Linked DNA regions of Homo sapiens: region 1 is linked to region 2. Evidence: fine-mapped expression QTL. Tissue or cell type: regulatory T cells. Region 2 holds a variant in brackets; the other region holds the start of a gene. All regions are shown on one strand. Distances are from middle to middle.

Region 1 (8,106 bases), 770 kb after region 2:
GTTCTAGACATGTCAATATGAAGGGTGTATCTGGGGGGAGCGAGAAGTTCAGCAGCAAGGGTATTTACAGTGCCACATGCAGTCTCATTTTCTCGCAGAAATCCAAATTGCTTTGCCTTTTCCTTCAGAGAGCATTTTCCTTTGTTTCCGACTTGCCCATTGGGCGCAGCACACCTGTGTGGACACACTGTCGGCACACACGCTGGCCGGTCCTCCACCGAGGGTCAGGAGCACTGAGGAGGCATCTCCCTGGCCACGGGCAGTGCCACAGGAGCTGCACTCAGGCTCCCAACCTTCACAGGTGCGTAAGGTGCACTGGGGCATGCTCAGAGCCCCCTGTCATCTGTCCACGCGGGTGAGGACATGCTGGGTGGTCTGGTGGCTCAGTATGAGGCAGACCACTTGACTGGGATGGTGTCTTCAGGAAATCCTGGAAACAAGACAGAGGTTTGAAAACCTCACTGCAAAGACACAATAAGCTACGTATACATAGTGGTATACATATGCACGCACATACATGCACGTCCACAATCCATGTTCCTATGCACCTGTTCCTGCCCATGCAGGTTCATGCACACATATTCCCTGCAAATGTTTGTCAGGCACCTGCCAGGTGCCTCATGCTGTTCCAGGTGCTGGGATTGAGCCATGAACACCTGATACAGACAATGTCCCTATTCTTACAGATCTCGTATTCTAGGTGTCCCTGTTCTTACAGATCTCATATTCTAGAGACTAGAGATGGAGAGATGGTGACAAATGAGCAAACACATGTATACTACATTAGGAGAATGTGTGAGTCCATTCTCACACTGCTAATAAAGACATACCCGAGACTGGGTAATTTATGGAGGAAAGACGTTTGATTGACTCACAGTTCAGCATGGCTGGAGGGGTCTCAGGAAACTTCCAATCATGGCAGAAGGGGAAGCAAACACATCCTTCTTCATGTGGCGGCAGCGAGGAGAAGTGCCGAGAAAAAGGGGGAAAAGCCCCTTATAAAACCATCAGATCTCACGAGAACTCACTAACACGAGAACCGCAGCATCTGGGTAACCACCCCCATGATTCAATTATCTCCCACGGGGTACCTCGAACAATACGTGGGGATTTATGGGAACTACAATTCAAGATGAGATTTGGGTGGGGACGCCAGCAAACCATATCAGAGGGCTAAGTGCTGAGAAGGAGGGAGGGAGGAGAGCAGATGTGGGCATACAGATGTGAGAGGCATACCTTAACCAAGTGTCAAGAGAAGGCCTGCCGCATCAGAGCTTTCAGTCAGAGCCCTCCAGTAGGAGAGTGAATTCTGTGCACAGCTAGGAAACATCTCAGCGGCAGAGACAGGGAGCACGGGGTCCTGTCCAGATGTCCACACTGCACGGATGCGCACACACGGTGAACAAGGGTCTGTGCATGCTCACACAGCGAACCAGCACATCTACCCAGATGCGCACATCTGTGCATGTACACTGGGCACAGGACTCTGCATCCAGATACAAGCGTGTGCACAGAGACGCACAGGAGGCAGATGCACGTGCAGAGGATGAGAACCTGAGCCCACGGACCAGGCCAGCCCAGCCTCCGTGTTGGGCAGCAGCCCCCACGTCCTCAGGCGCTGCTGGGCAGTAACAGAGGCACCAGGTAAATCTTTATCTGGTGGAAAGGCAGCATCTCATTTGACCTTTGAAAAAACGAAACATTCCAAGCCCAGGGAAAAGTGAATAATCTATAAAACAGTGACTCCCTACCACTCAGATTTAGTCATTTTTGAAATATTTGCTTTAAATATTTTCCTAAGAAATAAAACCTTGCAAATGTAGTTGAAGGACTCACCTCATATCCCTGAAGGCTGCCATGGTCTCCACCTGGTGCCCCAGACCCTCTGAGATTTTCCAAAAGTTCACGTGTAGCCGGCCTCCCTCCCTTTCCTTTTCCCAAATTCTAACACATGTGTGTGTTCGTAAGCCAGGCGGAGTTAGATTTTCTGTGTTTTACTAAACAGACAAATCATGTTGCAGGTTTCATTGTACACCTTGCTTTAACAAATGTGTCTTTGATATTGATCCAAATTGTTACACAGAGATGCAGCCCATTCATTTTAACTTCTTTGTAACTTTCCATCGGAGGGATAAGCTACATCCATTCTGGGTTTCTGTTTTCTTTATGACAACCAATTCTTCTTTCGGCACTTGGCTTGATACACGTGAGTGAGATGTTGTCAACTCTTCTCCAAAATGTCCTTGCACATTTACAATCTCATCTCCTGCAGGCTCCTGCGGTTTCCCTGCTCCGTCAACAACGGGTATTGTGGAACTTTGTACTTTTAGAAATCCCATGGATACAATGCGGCATCTCATTACAGTTTTAATTTTCTTGATTAACAGTGTGGGGGAACATATTTTCTGTGCTTGTTAACTAGCTCTTCAAGCTCCCTGGTTTATAATGATCTGTCCTTGTCCTTCACTCAGGCTCCTGTAGAGGAGACGAAATCATTTTTCTTAATGATTCATAGCAATGCTGTGTATGTTTTGAATATGAGTTTTTGTTTTTCATATGTGTCACAAATATCTTCTGGATCTGTGGCTTTCATTTTCCTCAGAACATGCTCTGTGATACAGGAGATTTATTTTTCATGTGGTCGTTTTAAAATTGATTTTTGGCCCAGCACGGTGGCTCACGCCTGTAATCCCAGCACTTTGGGAGACCGAGGCAGGCGGATCACCTGAGGTCAGGGGTTCAAGACCAGCCTGGTCAACACGGTGAAACTGCGTCTCTACTAAAAATATAAAAATTAGCCAGTCGTGGTGGCGGGCGCCTATAATCCCAGCTACTCGGGAGACTGAGGCAGGAGAATCGCTTGAACCCGGGAGGCGGAGGTTGCAATGAGCCGAGATCAAGCCATTGCACTCTAACCTGGACGACAGAGTGGGATTCCATCTCAATCAATCAATCAATCAATTTTTACTTTTCGGATTGTGTATAAGAAACTCTTTCTGTTCTTAGGTCGTAAAGACCGTCTCCATCGCTTCTTCCGTTCGTGCGGTGGCCTCTCCTCTCACCATGGTGGCCTGGAGGCACCCAGATTTCTCTGGCCACGCGGCGCTCCAAGTCAGGAGTCAGCGCACAAGCCACGCGCGGACACCAGAACAGCCTGGAGGAAAAGCAGCCTCGTTCTGTTACCTTCTGCTGGTTACCCAGAGCCCGGTCCCTGCAGCCTGTGGGGAGAGACACAGACCCCCACTCTGCATCCGGGCGGAGTCACCCAGCGTTTACCCGCGTGTATTTCAAACTGCCGCAAGGACTACGTTTACTTTTCTCGCCCTGCTTCCGTGTTCTGCCATTTTTGAGGTCTCCACCACGGTCCCCTGGCCCCGGCCTAGACCCGGGCCTTTCCCCAGGGGTCCTGCTCCTCCGTGGCCCTGGACCGCTTGGCCCCTGTGCTCCTCTTTCCCTGGCTCCAGGATGCAGCCAGCTTCTCTTCAAGAAACTCAACCCCGGCTTGTGTTACCCCGAGGGTGTTTCCAGGCGTGCGAGGGGTGTGAGGGGTGGGACTGCACAGCGCGTCCCAGCCTCGGTCCCGGGCCCGGCCCCGGCAGACTCTGGAGAAGCCCAGGAGCGCGTGTCCCCGCCGGCCCCGCTCAGCCTGACCTGCTTTTCCCCACAGAGGTGCCGGGGTTCGGTGCAGTCTGGCCGTGTCCTCCTCTTCTCGCGGTTTCAGATTCTTCTTGCGTGACATTTTATCACACAAGACCGTGTTCGGGGATGGGGTGTTCTGAGCACGCCCTTACCGAGCCAGGCTCACCCAGTTCCCCATCTAGAGCTCCCTGCTGGCATCTCTCACCTGGGACCCCAGCCTGCAAGACTCCGACACCCACGCCCTTAGGGTGATGTGGCCGCGCCCAGCCTGCGCTCAGCACCACGGGAGGGAGGGCGGCAGGCGGAAGCCCCGGCCATCTTGGGAAGGGCCTTTTGGGACCGTGTGTTCCGCTGAGAACCACAGACCCATGCTTCAGACGCTACAGATTTCTCTCTCAAATGCCTGGATTCAAAATATAAAAGTGTGTTTGAGCAAACAGCAAAATATTTGGGAAATTCTCCCAGCGAGGCTTCTAATGACCCCGTAGGAAAAGCCAGGCTGCTCCCTGCTGCGCCTCCAGCGAACTTCCCACCGGGCAGGACTCTGGGAAGAAGAGCAAAGGGTTCTATTTTGCGTAGAATTTAAATAAAATTGCTTCACAGACGGGAAACGTCAAGCAAGCAGCACTCTGAGCCCATGCGTGCTTTTAATGCCTGAATGACATCGCAATTCAGTCTGAGTTCCCGCCTGGGCTCAGGGCCTTCTGAACTGCCGGGGGCTGTGAAATGGTTTATAATCAGAAGAGAAGCAGTGAGAGTTTAGATCCAAGATCCAAGGAAGTGTTTTCAGACTCAGTGTTAGCACATTTGTGTCTATACCAGTCCAGGCAGGAGGCTGAGGCAGAAGAATCGCTTGAACCCAGAAGGCAGAGGTTGCAGTGAGCCGAGATCGTGCCACTGCACTCCAGCCTGGGCAACAGAGCGAGACTCCATCTCAAAAAAAAAAAAAAAAAAAAAAAAACCACCATCAGATCTCGTGAGAAAGTACTGTCAGAATAGCCTGGGGGAAAACCACCCCCATGATTTAGTTACCTCCCACTGGCTCCCTCCCATGACACATGGGGATTATGGGAGCTACAATTCAAGATGAGATTTGGGTGAGGACACGGCCAAACCATATCAGGCTTCCACCCTCATAAACAGATTAATGTCATTATCGAGAGAGTGGGTTTGTTACCTCAAGAGTGGGGTTTCTAAAGTGAGCCTGGCCTCTCCTGCTCGGACTCAGGCCCTGGCTCCTGCCCTCCATCCTTCTCCCATGGGATGACCTTTGCCAGATGCCAGCACCATTGTCCTGGACTTTGTAGTCTCCAGAACTGCGAATGAAATAAATCTCATTTCTTTATAAATTACCCAGCCGGTGGCATTTCATTACAGCAGCAGAAAACAGAATAAGACAGTGGTCCTCTCTGTTATTTCTTGGTGTCTGTTTTTATGAATTTAAGGACATAATTATAGATTTTCTATTCATTAGCTTCTTTAGGTTTATTCTGTTATTCTCTGATGTTTTAAGTCAAGCTTTATTTTAAAGTTTTTCTTACTTCCTACATATGTTAAAGGTGACACATTTTCATGTAAATGAGGGATTTCTGCTAACCGTAGCTTACGGGAACAGAGCCACACCTCTTCATTTTCATACTGCCTGTGTTCGCTTTCTGACCAATCCAGCAGAGAAGAGGAGATGCAACAGAGACTATCCCACAAAGCCAAATATATTTTTATTTTTGTTTGTAAAAAATATTAGTAATAATATTTTTAAATGGGAAATGATCATCATCTGCACTTGTGAAATGCCATGTGGTATTTGGATGTATGTGCAAAACATGGAGTGATTAATTAAAGCCAATTAATATATCCATTGATTCTCTTAGTTATTTTGAAATATACAACACATTATTGTTAACCAGAGTCACCTGCTTTGCAGTAGGTCTCAAGCATGCTACTACCTGCCCCTCCACAAGACAGTTTTGCTAGTCACCTGCTTTGCAATAGGCCTCAAGCACACTACTACCTGCCCCTCCACAGAGACAGTTTGCTGACCCTTCCTAGGTGAAGCATTCTCTGCATTCACTCCAGAAGTCTCAATATGCAGCATTTATGTGGTCATTGTGTTTCAAATATTTTCAAATTTTGATTGTAATCTTCCTTGATTTACGATTCCTTCAGAAATAGGTTTTTATGGTTCCATATTTATGGGGCTGTTTTTCTCATTATTTCTAATTTCGATATGTGGAGTTCAGAGAATGTAGTCCATAAATACTTATTTTTTTAGTAATTGTTGGAATTTTTCTAAATGTCTCATGAATGCTTGATTCTTAGGTTCACAGATTTGAAGCAGCTATTATAGAAAACTTATTAATTATCTTGACAAGAATCCTTCGCTACTAATTTTGGGTCTGTGTAGCCACTTTAGGATTGATAGTTGTGTCGAACACTCTCATCATGATTTTGTATTCGTGTTTTTCTCCTTGAGTTTTTATCCATTGCATCCATTTGAAATTATGTTAATATACTAAGTTTCACAATTATGCTATGACCCTGATAAATAATTTCGTTTCTCGTGATGCAGTGGCTCTCTTTATTCTTGATAATGTGGTTTGATTTAATATCTATTTGTCTGGTATAATCGGGCGATTCCAGCCTTGCTTGGGTTAGTGTTTTTCTCATACTTTCTGTATCTTGCTTTCATTCTTTCCATGTTATGTTCTTTTTGATATGTCTCTTGTCAACAATGCATGTTTTACATATGTGTAGACACCTGGGGAGGTAGATTTCCTATATTTTCTCTAATAAATTTCTTTACTTGCATTTCTTTTAGTTAACAATGTATTAAATTCAGTTATGCAACCTTACTTAGGGCTTTGTACTACCCGTACTTCTAAGACGTCGCTCTCTTGAGCTTTTTACTGGTTTAGGTAGTATACATCATTTCTATTCTTTAAGCAATTACACCTAAATTTCATAATATCTACACTAAACCTATCAACATCTAAATGTACCTAGTAACTTTAACTCCCTCTACAACTATACAAAACCTACACAACATGTTAACTCCAACAATCTCCTTCCCATTTTACAAGGTTTCTCTGTTGAGGTTTCATAGAGGGCCAATGAAAAACTCCATTCTGACCCGTGCTCAAGCTGAGCCAATTTAAAAATAAGACAAAATTAATGCTTATTAAAAGAAAGCTTGAAGGTAATTCCTGGAGAACTTGTGACACGTTTGGAAAAGGTTGAAGGACTGGAGCTGGGTGGGCTGGTGGCTTTCAGAAAAGATGTGGGACACGTAAAGTGAGACAGGGCCAGGGACAGGAGAGGAGTCTCCTGCTTCTCTGAAAGTCCTTCTCCGTTTCATCCATGTTGAGTAAGTGCCATCATGTCTGGGCACTCAGGACACAATGGTGAATGAGAGTGCCCCGGCCCTGTCTCCTGGAAGCTGGGGTTGATGGGGACCTCCCAACTGCAGGCCAGCGGTGCCCTGCCCTCTACTGAGCATAGGGACACGGGGTTCTGGTCTCCTTAGCACCCAGGCTGACCCCTCTACAGGAGCCTCTGTGATGAGGACCAGGGACGGCACCTGCATCACTCTCAAAGGGAAATTCATCTCACTCCCTCCATCCCTCCCTTCTCTCTCCTTCCCACCCTCCCTCTCTTCCTTCCTCTCTCTCTCTCTTCCTCCCTCTCTCTCTCTCTTCCTCCCTCTTCCTTCCTCCCTTCCTCTGCCCCCTCCACCCTACCCTCCCTCCCTCCCTTTCTTTCTCTCCATCTATTATGGACTGAATGATTGTGAATCCCCAGATCCCTCTGTTGAAGCCCTAATCGCAGTGTAACGCTATTTGTGGATGGGGCCTTTGGAAGGTGATGAGGTCATGAACCCTCACGAATAGGATTAGTGACCTTGGAATAAGAGACACAAGATAAATGATTCCCTTCTGCCACTGAGGACACAACGAGAAGGCGCCATCTCCAAGCCAGGAAGGGGGCCCTCAGCAGACACCGAGTCAGCACCGTGATGATCCTGGGCTTCCCAGACACCACACCTGAGAGAAATAAATGCCTAGTGTTTCAGCCCCCAGTCTATGGTAATTAGTGATTGCAGCTCAAACTAAGACACCCTTCGCCTTGACATAACCATAGCGACACTTTGGATAAAACTTCCTTCATTTTGGATGTGACTCTGGACACTTCCTGGTCTTCGTACACTGCAGACATGAAGTGTCATCCAGCGGCATGTGCTGGACTGGGGCACCCTTGGTGTTGCCTTCATACACTGCAGACATGAAGTGTCATCCAGCTGCATGTGCTGGGCTGGGGCACCCTTGGTGTTGTCTTCATACACTGCAGACATGAAGTGTCATCCAGCTGCATGTGCTGGGCTGGGGCACCCTTGGTGTTGTCTGCTGTCACACTGGGAGCCTGGACCCTGCGGGCAGGGCTCACAGAGGTTGCAGGGCCATCCTCTCGTGG
Region 2 (8,106 bases):
TATGCAGCTAACAACAGAGCATCAAAATAGGAGAGGCAACACTCAAAGAGCTGCAACGAGAAACAGACAAATCCACTATTAAAGTTGGAGACTTCAACGCCCTCTCTCAGTAACTGACAGATCCAGCAGGCACAAAATCATAAGGACATAGTTGAACTAAACAGCACTATCAATCAACTGGATCTAATTGACATTTATAGAAGACTTCACCCAACAACAGCCAAATACACAATCTTCTCAAGCACACATGGGACATTAACCAAGATAGACATTCTGGGCCACAAAACACACCTTAGCAAATTTGAAAGAATATAAATCATAGAAAGTATGCTTTCTAGACCACAATGGAACTAAACTAGAAATCAATAACAAAAGCTAGGTGGAAAATATCAAAATATTTGGAGATTCAATAACACACTGCTAAATGACACATGGGTCAAAGGAATCTCAAGAGAAACTGTAAAGTATTTTGAGGAAAATAAAAGTACGACCTATCAAAGTTTGCAAGATGTAATGAAGGCAATGCTTAGAGGGAAATGTATAGCACTGAATGCATATATTAAAAAAGAAGATCACAAATCAATATTCTAAGTTTCCACATTAAGAAGCTCTAAAAAGAAGAGTAAATTAAGTTTAAAATCAGCAGAAGAAAAGACTAATACAAATTAGAGCAGAAATCAATGACATTTAAAATGGAAATCAATACAGAAAAATCAATGGCATTAAAAGCTGGTTCTTTGACAAGATCAATAAAAGTGATAAACCTCTAGCCTGACTAACCAAGAAATAAAGAAAGGCAAATTACTTATCTCAGAGATGAAAGAAAGGGCATCCCTACTGATCCCATGGACATTAAAAATATAATAAAGACATGTTATGAACAACTTTGTGCTCACTACTAGTTGTCAACTCTAGTTCTTTACCACTGCTCTTAATATTATAGTGGCAGTCCTGGTTAATGCAATAAGACAAGAAAAAATGAAAGGTATACAGACTGGGAAAGAAGAAATAAAATGGTGCTTGTTTACACATGACATGATTGTCTATACAGAAAATTCTAAATAAACACACACACACACACACACACCCCACCCACCCCTCTCAGAACTCATGATCAATCAAGCAAAGTCTCAAGATACAAAGTCAACATACAAAAGGTGGTTGCTTTCCTATATATGCTATCTACGAGAACAACTGGAATTTGAAATTAAAAGCACGTCATTTCCATTTGCATCCCCCAAAGTGAAATACTTAACTATAAATCTAACAAAATGTGTTCAAGATTATGGAAGGAAAAGAAACTTATGAAATAAAAGAAGACCAAAATAAATAGATGTTCCATTTTCATGGATAAAAGGTCCTAATATTGTTAATGACGTAGGAGGCAGGACTCAACTCTGGGGGCAGGGCTTGGACTCTGGACCAGATTGAAGACTGGCTGAAACAGGAAACAGGGAAGAGGTGAAAGCGCCTCTTCGTGAGACACGCCCACCAGCACCATGTCAGTTTGCTATTGCCATGGCAACACCCAAAATGTACTGCCCTTTTCCATGACAATGGCCTGACAACCTGGAAATTATCACCCTTTTTCTAGAAATTTCTGCATTGTCTGCTCCTTAATTTTGCATATAACTAAAAGGGGGTATAACTATGCCTTCAGCACTGCCTCTGAGCTGCTGCTCTGGGCACACTGCCTATGGGGTAGCCCTGCTCTGCAGGGAGCAACACCTCTGCTGTTGCTGTACACGTCCACTTCAATAAAAGTTGCTATTTAACACCACCAGCTCACCCTTGAATTCTTTCCTGGGCAAAGCCAAAACCCTCCCAGGCTAAGCCCCAATTTTGGGGCTCACCTGCCTTGCATTGTTAAGATGTCAATTTTTTCCATGTTGATATACAGAGTCAGTGCAATCCCAATCAAAATTCTAGTATGTTATTTTGTGGATATTGAGAAACTGAGTCTAAATTTTATATAGAAAGTCAAAGACCTAAAAGAGTCAACACATTACTGAAAAAGGAAGAACAAAGCTGGGGGACTGACATTACCCAACTTCAAGACAAGCTATAAAGATGCAGTAATCAAAAGAGCATGGTATGAGAGAAAGAACAGACCAATAGATCCATGGAACAGAACGGAGTGCTCAGAAATAGACCCACACAAACACGGCTGACCTTTGGCAAAGAAGCAAAGGCAATTCAATAAGAATGGCTGCTCTTTTCAATGAATTGCTGGAGTAATTGGCCATCCACATGCAAAAAAAAAAAAAAATGAATTTAGACACAGACCTTACATCATTCACAAAAATTAACTCAATATGGATTGTAGATCTATGTGGAAAATACAAAACTATAAAACTTTTAGAAGATATCACAGGAGAAAATCCAGGGAACCTTGGACTTGGAGATGACTTTTAAGATACAATGCCAAAAGTATGATTTAGGAAAGAAAAAAATTGATATGTTGCATTTCATTGAAATTTGAAACTTCTATTCTGAAAAGCACTGTTAAGAGAATGAAAAGACAAGCCACAGACTTGGAAACCATTGTTGCAAAGCACATGTCAGATAAAGGACTTGTACTTAAAATATACAGAGAAATTATTTCACTCAATTTCCCAAAGTCGTTAAACTCAACAATAAGCAAACAAACCCAATTTTCAAATGAACAGACATCTCACCATAGGAGATACACAGATGGCAAGTAAGCATAAAGGGAGACGCTCAATATCATATGTCATTAGGGAACTGCAAAATAAAACAACAATGACACATTACTACACACTTATTAGAATGACTAAAACCCAAAACACTGACAATAGCCAATGCTGCTGAAGATGTGGAGTAAGAGGAACTCTCATTCATTGCTGGTAAGATGCAAAATGGTACAGCCACTTTGGAAGACAGTTGAGCAGCTCCTCACAAAGGTAAACAGGCCCTAAACATACTCTTACCACACAGTTAATTAGTAATTGTGTCTTTAGAAAAACAAAAGCTTCACATAACTATCTATAGCAGTTTTATTCATAATTGCCAAAACTGGAAGCAGCTAAGATGTCCTTCAATAGATGAATGGATACAGCCTCACATTGGAATATTACTCAGTGATTAAAAACAAATGAGCTATCAAGCCATGGAAGGACATGGAGAAACGTTAAATGCGTATTGCTAAGTGCAATAAGTCACTCTGAAAAGGCTGCATATTGTATGATTTCAATTACATAACATTCCGAGAAAGGCAAAGCAATGGACATAGTAAAAGTTCAGCGCTAGCCAGAAGTCTGAGCTACGGCAAGGAGTGATGAGTAGGTGGAGCACGGGGGATTTTTATGTGGAGCACAAGGGATTTTATGTGGAGCACAGAGAATTTTTATGTGAAGCACGGCGGATTTTTATGTGGAGCACGGCGGATTTTTTTGTGATGAAAGTGTTCTGAAGCACAGCAATCGGCGGTAACTGCCATTTGCATTTGTTAAAGCCCAGAGAGCTTTACCCACAACACAGAGTGAACCGGAATGTAAACTATGGGCTTTAGTTAGTTACAATGTATCAATACTGGTTCATTAATAGTAACAAATGTAGCACACTAATGCAAGATTTTAATAATGGAGAAAAGTAAAGGCACATGTGGGAACTCTGTGCTTTCTGTTCGATATGTCTGTAAATCTAAAAAAATAAGTCTGTTAATGAAAAACATATATACTGAGAAACTGTGTCAGGTTTACAAAGATGAAACAATTAAACAGTCCCAGCCATTACTTTTAAGGATCCACTGTCTGGTGTAAGAGACAGCATCATATGTCAGCTTTCATGGGGAAGTCAGGAAGGACATGAGATGGACAGCGCCCAGGATGAAACACTCAGCTCCTTGCAGGAGAGGGACCAGGAGAGGCTTCTGTCAATGCTAAAGTGTCATGAAAATACAAGCCAGTGATTATTATTGGGGTTGCCGTGGCTCCTGCGGTATCTCACGTACAGATTTCAATATTTACATGACTCAGCTCTGCAGCTTTATTTATCCTCCCTCCCAGAGCTCTGGAAAGCAGGAACTGGGATTTTCTTCTAGGTGTTGTGGAAACCATCGGATAATTGTCATCAGGGGAGTTTGAAATATCATTCTGGCTGCTGTATGGTAAAGGGATTGAGGAGCAAGAAGGGAAGGCAACTCGAAGGCCAAGTCTAAGGTGAAGTAAGAATAATAGTGACTGGGGCTAAAATGCCAGCAACGGAGACAGGGGGAGGGAAGCAGAGAGATTCAAGATGTATTCTGCAGGAAAAGTCAGCTTCCCAGGTCAAAAAACTGCTCAAGCCATCTGAAGGACAGAGAATTCAGTGATCATGCCTAGATTTCTGGCTTAAACAATTGCAAAATGATGAGGTTTATCAATCCGGGAAGACGAGCATTGAAAAAATAAAAGTGCGGGTTAACAAAAGTTGAATTTCTATGTTGCCAGCGTTAAGCCTGAAATGCACATTTTACATGCACATGGAGATGTTATGTCAGCTTCTTGATGCAGAATTATAGATGTTGACAAAGAACTTTGAGGTACTCCAACCTTTAAATATCAATTAAAAGAGGAGCCAGCAAAGTGGGTGCGATGAATAGCCCAGGGAAGAGAAAATAAACCAGGAGAACACACTGATAGAAAATCCAAAAGGAAAACGGCGAAAAGAAGGAAGGGTCAGCTGGATCCAGTGTTGCCGTGGGATC[T/C]TCTGTGATAAGAGCATTGACTAATGGACTTGGCAATGAGAAAAATCGCTGGAGATTTTCTCAAGATCAACATTGTGAGGTGGAGGGGACAGATGGCCAGAGGGAGAGAAAGGTGGAGGACGGAGCAATGGGAAACGGATGAAGGGTGAGTGAAAGAGGAACTAGGTATAGGTGGATCAATGGAGGGAGTGATGGATAATTGGATAGCTGGGTGAATGGATACGCAGATAAACTGAGGGAAATGATTAACCGATCGAGTGATCAATTTATAACAGAGGAGATGTATTGATTAAAGATGGTGCCCAATAAGGCATGATGAAGGAGAATTAAAGGAACCTGATGTTGTGAAGTGGGTATCATTAGGTCAGATGGAAAGGTGGCATTAGGATAGCCATAAATGAGCTGCTTCTGAGTCAGGGAGGACTTAGTTCAAAGGTGGGGAAGAAAGAGGACTTTAGAACCACTGATCCTTAGTTCACATAGCATGCTTTAAACATTTATGGATTATTAAGGGCTGTTTCCCTTAAGGCAACAGAAATGCAACTCAGACTCAATTAACAAAACAGGGAATTTATTGTTTTGAATAACTGGAACGTCTCAAGGTCAGACTGATCTTCTGGCACCACTAGATCCAGACTCCCGGGCGTCCTCAGGGCCTCCTGCTCTGCCTTCCTCCCAACTGACTTCATTTACAGAAAAAATGCTAACAGGGATGACTTTTCCCACAATGGGGCAAAATTAGCTCTTACTGGGCAAAAAATCTTAGCTATTATAATGGTTTTGGGACCCCACAAAAGGCCCCAGTATATTAAAATATATATATATATATATATATATATATATATATATATATATATATATATATATAAAATACTATTAAAACATAACAAGTGGGTAGTAGTGACTGCAGTAAAATTGTCTAAAAATCACTTCATGGGTCAATAATAAGAAAAGATTGAGACACATCAGTATATGGACAGGCTTTCCCACAGGTGACAACAAGATTCTATCCTTCTAGGAGGTCAAGTTCAGGTAGAAGGCAACACCCCTTCCTAATGGTCCAGCCAAAAGTCCTAGGGCTGCCTCTCAGCCAGCAGGTTTGATCCTGGGCCTAGCACTGTGTCTCTGAGTAGCCAGGATTTAGGCATATGATCATGCTGGGGCTTTGGGGAAGGCATCAACCTCACCTGCACAAGAGGAGGGAGCATATCACCCCCCAAAAAACTGATGAAGATGGGAAGGGGAAAATGATTTGGAATGGGTAGAGACCAAAAGATGTGTGTCCCAGAACGGTTGCATGCCAGTTAGGTAGGGTGGAAGCCTGTTGCTACGATGTGGGGAAGGTTGTCTGCTTCTCAACCTGTGGCCAGTGAAATGTATGCAGAATTGATGTGTATCAGCTCCGGACAAACATTTTCAGGGCCATGATGCTCTATCTCCTGCGGCACTGCTATTGAAAGCACAGGGATAGATTGCTCTTCTGTGAACCTGAGTCTCTGAGGCTACAGCAGCCCCTGACTACGTACTCAGTGAGAAGCAAGCTGGGTTCAGTCACTGGCCCAGGGGCATTTTTGTTATCACAGCATAACCAGGTCTATACTGACAGCTACACTTGGCAATAACTTTAAGGTACTATAGACTAAGAACTTTGCTTTATGGCACATGATCTAATTAAATGAGTTAGCAAACACAAGGAATATAGAAAAATGGAGAAATAACAGTTCCTTAAAAGTTTGTCTCTAACACATGATCATTCACTTTGCATTGTCATGCCAAGCCATCATTCATGGCTGAATTTTTTTTTTTGATGACCTCACTTAGTGTCCCTGGGCATTGCTTGAGTGAGAACCATGTGCTATAGATGCCCTGATTTCATTCCTAGTGTCTGTTCTGAGCACCCTCTGGGTGTCAGATTCTGGGGCAGTTACACACCCAGTCAGTCCACAAATCTTTATCAAGACTTCTTATGGGTCAGGTAATGAGCTAGACTCTAAGAATAAAGTGTGAAACAAAGACTTATTGAAAAAGAAAAGAGCCATATAAATCTGATGACGTGGCTTTTCTTGTAAAACAGCAAGCTTATTCTGTATAGTTCATGCATTATTGACTTCAGAATTAACTTAAATGAGTATAGCTGATGAATCAATGACTTGTGACAACTTTGGGCAGTGGGTCTCAACGAATTCAGCTTCCTAGGCCTTCAGAATTAACTTAAATGAGTATAGCTGATGAATCAATGACTTGTGACAACTTTGGGCAGTGGGTCTCAACGAATTCAGCTTCCTAGGCCTTCAGAATTAACTTAAATGAGTATAGCTGATGAATCAATGACTTGTGACAACTTTGGGCAGTGGGTCTCAACGAATTCAGCTTCCTAGGCCTTCAGAATTAACTTAAATGAGTATAGCTGATGAATCAATGACTTGTGACAACTTTGGGCAGTGGGTCTCAACGAATTCAGCTTCCTAGGCCTTCAGAATTAACTTAAATGAGTATAGCTGATGAATCAATGACTTGTGACAACTTTGGGCAGTGGGTCTCAACGAATTCAGCTTCCTAGGCCTTCAGAATTAACTTAAATGAGTATAGCTGATGAATCAATGACTTGTGACAACTTTGGGCAGTGGGTCTCAACGAATTCAGCTTCCTAGGCCTTCAGAATTAACTTAAATGAGTATAGCTGATGAATCAATGACTTGTGACAACTTTGGGCAGTGGGTTTCAATGAATTCAGATCCCTAGGCCCCACCCAACACCTGCTGAATCAGAATCAGGAGATTGAGCCTAGAAATCTGGATCTTTGATCACGTATTCTGGGAGACTCTGACACATTCCAAAATTTGAACATCTTTGCTCCAAGTTGTAATTAGTCATTGAAACATTAGTGAGAATGGGTGCCAGACCCTCGGTAAGCCAAGTACTGAGAATGGTACTGAGGAAGCACGCTTCACTCAAAACTTCTCATGAGCACTCTCTTGCAAAATGATCAAAGATTTTTCAAGGAAAATATTAAAAGCTTTGCTCTAAAAGTCCTAATGTCTGCAGAGACACTTGGTGTGCGTTATTACGCACCAGCTGCTTGGCTATGTCAACGTGGAGCAGCCTGGATCTGCCCTGGGATGGCCTTCATCTGAGCACTTGGCCGCCTGTGCCTCACACAAAGCCTCAGGGCTGCACCTCTGGAACAAGAGAGAGACAAGAAATAGAAGATATTTCTAGGCCGGGCGCAGTGGCTCACACCTGTAATCCTAGCACTTTGGGAGGCCGAGGAGGGTGGATCACCTGAGGTCAGGAGTTCAAGACCAGCCTCAACATGGAGAAACCCCGTCTTTACTAAAAATACAAAATTAGCTGGGCGTGGTTGTGCAGGCCTGTAATCCCAGCTACTCGGGAGGCTG

What was found. PIP is the estimated chance that this variant, and not a neighbour inherited with it, causes the effect.
Region 1: it holds the start of NHIP, and the variant in region 2 is fine-mapped to the expression of NHIP in regulatory T cells (Schmiedel 2018, PIP 0.95).

What each region holds. Positions count from the first base shown.
Region 1 is chr22:49,048,520-49,056,625 of GRCh38, forward strand. It overlaps NHIP (neuronal hypoxia inducible, placenta associated), which reads right to left and starts at 3,866. Exons shown (of 4, transcript NR_183584.1): 1 at 1,837-3,866; 2 at 1,237-1,684; 3 at 876-944. RefSeq lists a silencer at 88-244 and an enhancer at 3,833-3,912.
Region 2 is chr22:48,283,392-48,291,497 of GRCh38, forward strand. No RefSeq gene overlaps it. Among named protein-coding and RNA genes, the nearest start is that of MIR3201, 13 kb to the left of the region's middle. The variant T/C (reference allele first, on the strand shown) is at 4,709.